Homo sapiens: one gene and its partner. The protein of the gene in region 1 interacts with the protein of each later gene in a biochemical or structural test. Each region holds a gene or a part of one and is shown on either strand. Other genes may lie near its edges.

Evidence for each region. Proteins that work in one complex are often made in the same cells at the same time.
Region 2: the proteins of GAN (region 1) and UBA1 form a complex in vitro, tested with the Homo sapiens proteins (one study listed by IntAct).

Annotation. Positions count from the first base shown.
Region 1 is NC_000016.10:81,321,462-81,324,961, forward strand, and holds part of GAN (gigaxonin), read left to right. Parts: intron 1-3,500. UniProt on the Homo sapiens protein: Probable cytoskeletal component that directly or indirectly plays an important role in neurofilament architecture.
Region 2 is NC_000023.11:47,210,829-47,213,228, reverse strand, and holds part of UBA1 (ubiquitin-like modifier-activating enzyme 1), read right to left. Parts: intron 2,388-2,400; coding exon 2,313-2,387; intron 2,194-2,312; coding exon 2,004-2,193; intron 806-2,003; coding exon 717-805; intron 459-716; coding exon 366-458; intron 240-365; coding exon 48-239; intron 1-47. UniProt on the Homo sapiens protein: Catalyzes the first step in ubiquitin conjugation to mark cellular proteins for degradation through the ubiquitin-proteasome system.

The DNA.
Region 1 (3,500 bases):
ATAATTTAGGATTGAAGTAAAATGCTCTTCCACATAGAAACTCTGGTTCCTTAGGATTTATATTTGGATGATATAGAGTAAGCATCCAGTTTTCAAAACCGCCTTATCCATTGTTTAAAGTGTTAATGAGTTCTTATGATATCAAAGTGGGACTTAAAATCTATTTATAATTTGTAAGGAAAACATAATTAGGACAAATAAGGGTTCATTTGGTCTGTGAGTGCCATGCAATAAGTTCTTCACAGGGTTGCATCATCCTTCTGAAAGACACAAGACTATCATTTTGTGTACTAAAGCTGTAATATAAATGAATGATTTGTGAGTTTGAATTCTGGGTTAAGGGTGGAGATACGGGGGTGTGAGATGTGACACGTGGCAGGCTATGGTTGCGACCTTGCATTTGAGCGCTTCCCATGGGTTCTCTTCCTCCTAAGCCACAACAAATCCAAAGAAGGAAGGAAATCAAAGGCTCAGGTAAAGGTGGCAGCTCTGGCTCTGTGGAGGATAAAGATTCTATGTCCATCTAGATGGCCCGACACTCTACCAGAGTTCCTGATTCTGGTGCTTGGAAGAGCAGAGTTAAATCATCTTCCTAAGTACTTAGGGCCAAAGAGTGACTTAGCCATAGAATGATGGTCAGATGTTTGCTGCATTCATTTCTCTCTGGGAATGTGAATGCCCTAATTTCTCATAAAGATTATTACAGAAATACTGCAAAATAGAAATACGTAGTACTTTGCCATTTGCTATTATAGTGAAGGGATTTGGACTTTTCCTCTGTTCAAATAAGTTAGAAAAATGGAATACTTAGGTAAATAAGATCTTGGTGAAATATTTTGTTGGTTATCTCCAGTGTTCACCACATGCAGAGGAGATAAGACATCTCAGCAGCGGCTAGGTACTAGCAAGATGGTGGCAACCAACTGGCAAGGCCTTTGCCCTTCTGGAGCCTCCATTTCAATAGAGTAAGGCTTAGAGGGCCAATGCGTATCATAAATGGAAGATAGGAGGACTAGTTTTTAAAAGTTGACTGTTGAATAATGAAATACAGACCAATTAAATATCTTTGGGGTTTATTTGGATTTGAGTTTTTATAGAAACTTAAATGTATATTTTTGCTCGTAGATATTTTGTGGTTCTCTCAACTACAAAGTTGTTTATGTTTTTAAGAACAATTTTAAAGACCATTTGATGCTTGTGATTTTTATGGTAACATATTAATATGACTAGATATATTTTGAAACATAGTTTTATGGTCCTATTAGCATTCATCAGTAACCAGTTGCCTACACCTCTGAATAATAGTAAATGGTTTAGTATTACTGAGCTCAAAATATTTGCACTTTTGTCACTTAAATTGTTTATATTGATCAGTCCCTGAATTGTAAGAAACTTCATACTGAAACCTCACATTTAGGCTGTGAGTTTGATATGAGTCTTTTCTAACCCACAGAGAACATTCACTAGAAATGAAGCCAGAAGTTTAAGGACAGCGGGATTTTGAAGGACAATGAAAATCCTTAGAAAGTTCCCTGATATTCGTGTTTGCCATTCTCCTCTCCATGCTACAGCCCCCAGTCTACTTCAGTGATGGAGCTGGAGGCCAGCAGGACCCATTGGTTAATTGTATAGTCTTCCATTTGGTTAGTCCAGGGAATAGTTTCCCACAACTTCTAGCTTCTCTTCCTTACATGAAAGTTGGTACAGGGATTTGACACTTAGTATAACAGATAAGAGACTTCTCTCGGGGTTTTTGGTGGGTTTGTTTGTTCTCCTGCTTGGCCTCCTTAACAGCTACTGTCTTGTGCGACCAAAGCTATCAACTTTGTTCCCCGCCTAAAAATTACAATGCCTGCTGTTGGTAGGAAAGGAATAGACATCTCATTTTTATCACCCCCTGAGTGGGGTGCTTGAGCAAAAGAGGTTACCATTTCCTTTATTTATAGGCTTCTTTCATAGTGATCAGAAAAGGGGTTATGAAAATATTCACTGTCATAATAAGTCTTGGGACATCCTTAAGAAATGTCATCACTGCCTTAACCCATATGCTGTGGGGTTGTGTTTACCAATAATAGATTGCAGTTCAAGAATTAGCATTGTCTAAAGTTATTGAGATATACTGTGTATTGTTTCTTCACAGATATATTTCACAGTAAAGGGACCTTCTATATAATTAGGGTGTTGTTTAGGGAGTTGATTACAGGTTTAGTCGTTTAATACATACACAGGAGATAACTCAAGACATCTCAGCAGCATCTATGTACTGGCAAGATGGTGGCAACGAACTGACAAGGCCACTGTCCTCCTGGAGCCTCCATTTCAGTCATTTACAGAGGATTGCGCCCTCCAGGACTCCATCCTCTTGTGCTGCCTGCCATTGGAGCATTGTATTCAGTGGCCTCCCACAGAGAGTATCAAAACTAACCCAGTATGTGGAGACCTATGTCAGTCTATTTATTTTTCTATCTCTGTGGGGCTGGAGAAGGAAATAAACATAAAACTAAAGATTTAAAGATTACTTTTGATTTCACTTAGTTTTTTTATAACATCCTTGTGTTATGGGTAGTTTCAGAATCTCAAGAATGAGCAGAGAATAGATTTGCTGTGTTTATCAGAGTAGAAACTTCTGATAGTCTGCCCTAAAAGAATTTAATTGGCTGATTTGACCCTTTATTATTATAGTGTTACCCCAATTAATCACATTTACAGAAATGACTTTCTTTAAGTAGAGAACATCAGTTCTTGGCTAAGCCTCTCTAATATGCCCGTTTGTTCATTGCCCTTTCTAGACGGAGTGCCAGCATCCATGGGGGCTACCTGGGGAGGTGAGCAGTAAAGGGGTCTAATTACAGAGCCATATGAGTTTGCCGAAGGAAGTCCACAGAGGATGAGCATGGCTGCTGCTGTGGCCTGGGTGACGGGATCCCTGCTCCGAGGTGGTGCCATTGAAACTGAGATCTGAGGGAGGAGGAGACCTAGGCATGAGAAGAGCAGGGGGAGGCACCAGGATCAGGGGTGGCACCAGGACTAGGTCAGGCCTCTCTGGGAACAGAACACCACATACCTGGAGATGGTGAGCAAAGGGTGGGATGGCATCGACAACAGATTAGAGGCTGGGAAGGCCTGTGATCCCTGAGTTAGAGCTGGCATTTAGACTGCTTCCAAAGAAGATGAAACTTCTGCTGCCATGTTGTGTATTGGGAGCTGGCTGGGGAGGTGATAGGATATGAGAAAGGGACAAAAAAGCAATTGATGGCATAGTTGAGTCTGATAGAGAGTTTAGGCTTTATCTTACGGGCTATGGATGGGCAGTGGTGTATTTTAAAAGAGGAATATTTGTTTGTGTATTGTTTTAAAGTCACTCCAATGCAGTGCTGCTGGGTGTGCTCTATAAAAGCCAAGAGTGGAACCAGCGGCCGTTTCAGCAGGTGCTGCAGTTGTTCAGATGGAAAGTGGGATGCCCTGGGCCAGGTTTGGCAGTGGAGGCGGACACAGCAGCT
Region 2 (2,400 bases), on another chromosome or scaffold:
ACACAGATACACCCCACCCAAACCCTGCTTCGGATGCAGGCCCCCACCTGGTGACGTGGTGCGGCAAGGGGTTCAGAGAAACCAAAGAAAGGCAGGGCCAAGTTGAGGAAACCATTCTTGTAGGAGTCAAGCTGTCGGTGCCCCTGCACAACCTTGTACAGCTCCAGACACACAAGGCCAACCACGGCTGCTGTGGTCGTGGCAATGGCTGGGATGATCTTCCCTGCAATCAGCTTGCTCTGAGAGACAGAAGGGACAAAAGAAGGTGGTAGTTAAGTACAAGAGCCTCAGGGTCTACAGAGGGGCTAAGTGTGGGTAACTCAAACCTGGAGGAGGGTGGAACATCAGATTTAGATTCCCCTCACCTTGTGCCGGTCTGCAGAAGGAATGTCATAGTTTTCTGCCCGGAGGTTGGATGCAGCCACGATGAAATCCATATGAAAGTTGCTGTCATCATCCTGTTATGAGTGGGGAGGGTGTGAAGGCAGTGGGGAGAGGATCAGATAAAGAAGATGTGTATCCTCCACTGCAATTGCCTGCTGGACTCTCCCAGATCACAAAGGGATGGCTGGGAACACCTACTCATTCAGAGCCATATGGCAGGCCCACAATCTGATCCCCACAAAGGCCCGGGGCTGGCTCCAGATACTCCTGTTTTCTCCAGCCTGTCTATGCTTTGCCCATCCTCCTTCCCTGTCCTGAGCCCCACCCCATACCTTCTCAAAGTCAATGGGGTACATCTTGAATCCAGGGAGCTTGTCTGGGCTGGGCAGAGTGGCTTTGAGCTCCTCTAGACGACTGTCATCTGCATGAAGAAAGGGACACTGTCAGCCCTTTAGATCCCAGGCTAAGGTCTGAGATGGAAATGAGAGCCCAGGGTGGGGCAAAAGGTATTCAGGTACAAAAAGGATTTGGAAAGGAGAGACATCCTGGGAGAGAAAAGGGGCAAGGAGGAGAGGTAGAGCAGAGCAGAATACAAACCTGAAAAACACAGAGAAAGAGCTGAGGCTATCAAGAATGATCTCTCTAGAGACACTAAGGAACGGAAATGAAAATGTTAGGAGAAAGTGGAGATGGAGAGATCAAGATGGGAGACGTAAAGATCTTGGGAAGAATGATGTAGAGCAAGATGGGGGGAACACAGAGGATACAGGGAGGAAAAGGGGAGTAAAAAAGATATATGGAGGGGAAGTTGGGGGGAATACACAGATGTGGACATAGAGGAAAGATATGGGGGGAGATGGAGAAGATATAAAAGGGGGAGAGTGGGGGTATATACAGAGGGCGAGGCAGGTGGGAGGAGAAAGATGGAAGAAATATATGAAGGTGATGAGAGCTATGGAAGGAAAGATTGGAAGACATACATAAAGGAACATGAAGGAGTAGACATTTCAGAAGGAAGATGGGGACCATGGAAGGGGAAATGGGAGGAGATCTATGGAGAGGAAGACGGGGGAGATATAAGGAAGGTAAATGTAGGGGGCGTTACAGAGCTACAGAAGCATCATATACAGAAGGGAGGGGTGGTGAAAAAATATGCAGATGGGGTGGGGTGGGGGTGTCAGTAAACCGCAGCCCCAAACTATGGAGGGTGAAGATGCACAGAGAAACATGCAGGTAGATGTACAGATGGGGGCGGATCTGGAAGGAGACAAGGCAGGAAAGTATCAAGGGAGAGAGACTGCTGGTAGAGATCATACCTCCTAGATGAACAGATCAAGAAGAAACAGAAGAAAGAACAAAACTAAGGGAAATACACAGAGCAAGAGTAAAACAGCAAGTTCTCCTGAGGGCCAGATAGTGGGAAGGAGGAGGAGGGAGGGAGATAATTTGCCCCAACCTACCCTCTTCATGTCAAAGGGAGGCTCAAAGGAAGGTGTGGGTAAACCTCAGGCCTGGGGTCACAGAGCAGAGCAGAACCAGGGGTAGAGGACTGGTGGGGAGGCTGGACTAGGCCGGGGACATGTGGGGTGACTCCTGGCCAACTGGCCAAACACCCTCACCAACAGAGGCATTGGCGCTCTGCAGCTCCTGGTCAGAAACATGGATCTTGACGCCAGACTTGGGGGTGAATTCGGGGACCTGCACAGACTGCAGGAATGTGGCCACAGCAGCTCGGTCCTGAGAGCCTGTCAGCCCGTAGGTCTGGGCAAACAGGTTGGCAGCAGCCATCACATAGTCCAGATGCAGGGGCTAGGAGAAGGCAGGGCAGGGAAGGGTGAGCACATCAGCCCTCGAGTGGGGAGCCGCCACCTCCTTCCCACCTATTCACCCTCCACCTGACCCCAGAAGACCCTAGAAAGGAGACTTACATTGTTGACATCAAAGGTGAGCGGGTGTGGACAGCGTTTGGGCCCAGACCAGAACGGCGCTCCTGAGCTTGTGAGCTAAGGGATGGAG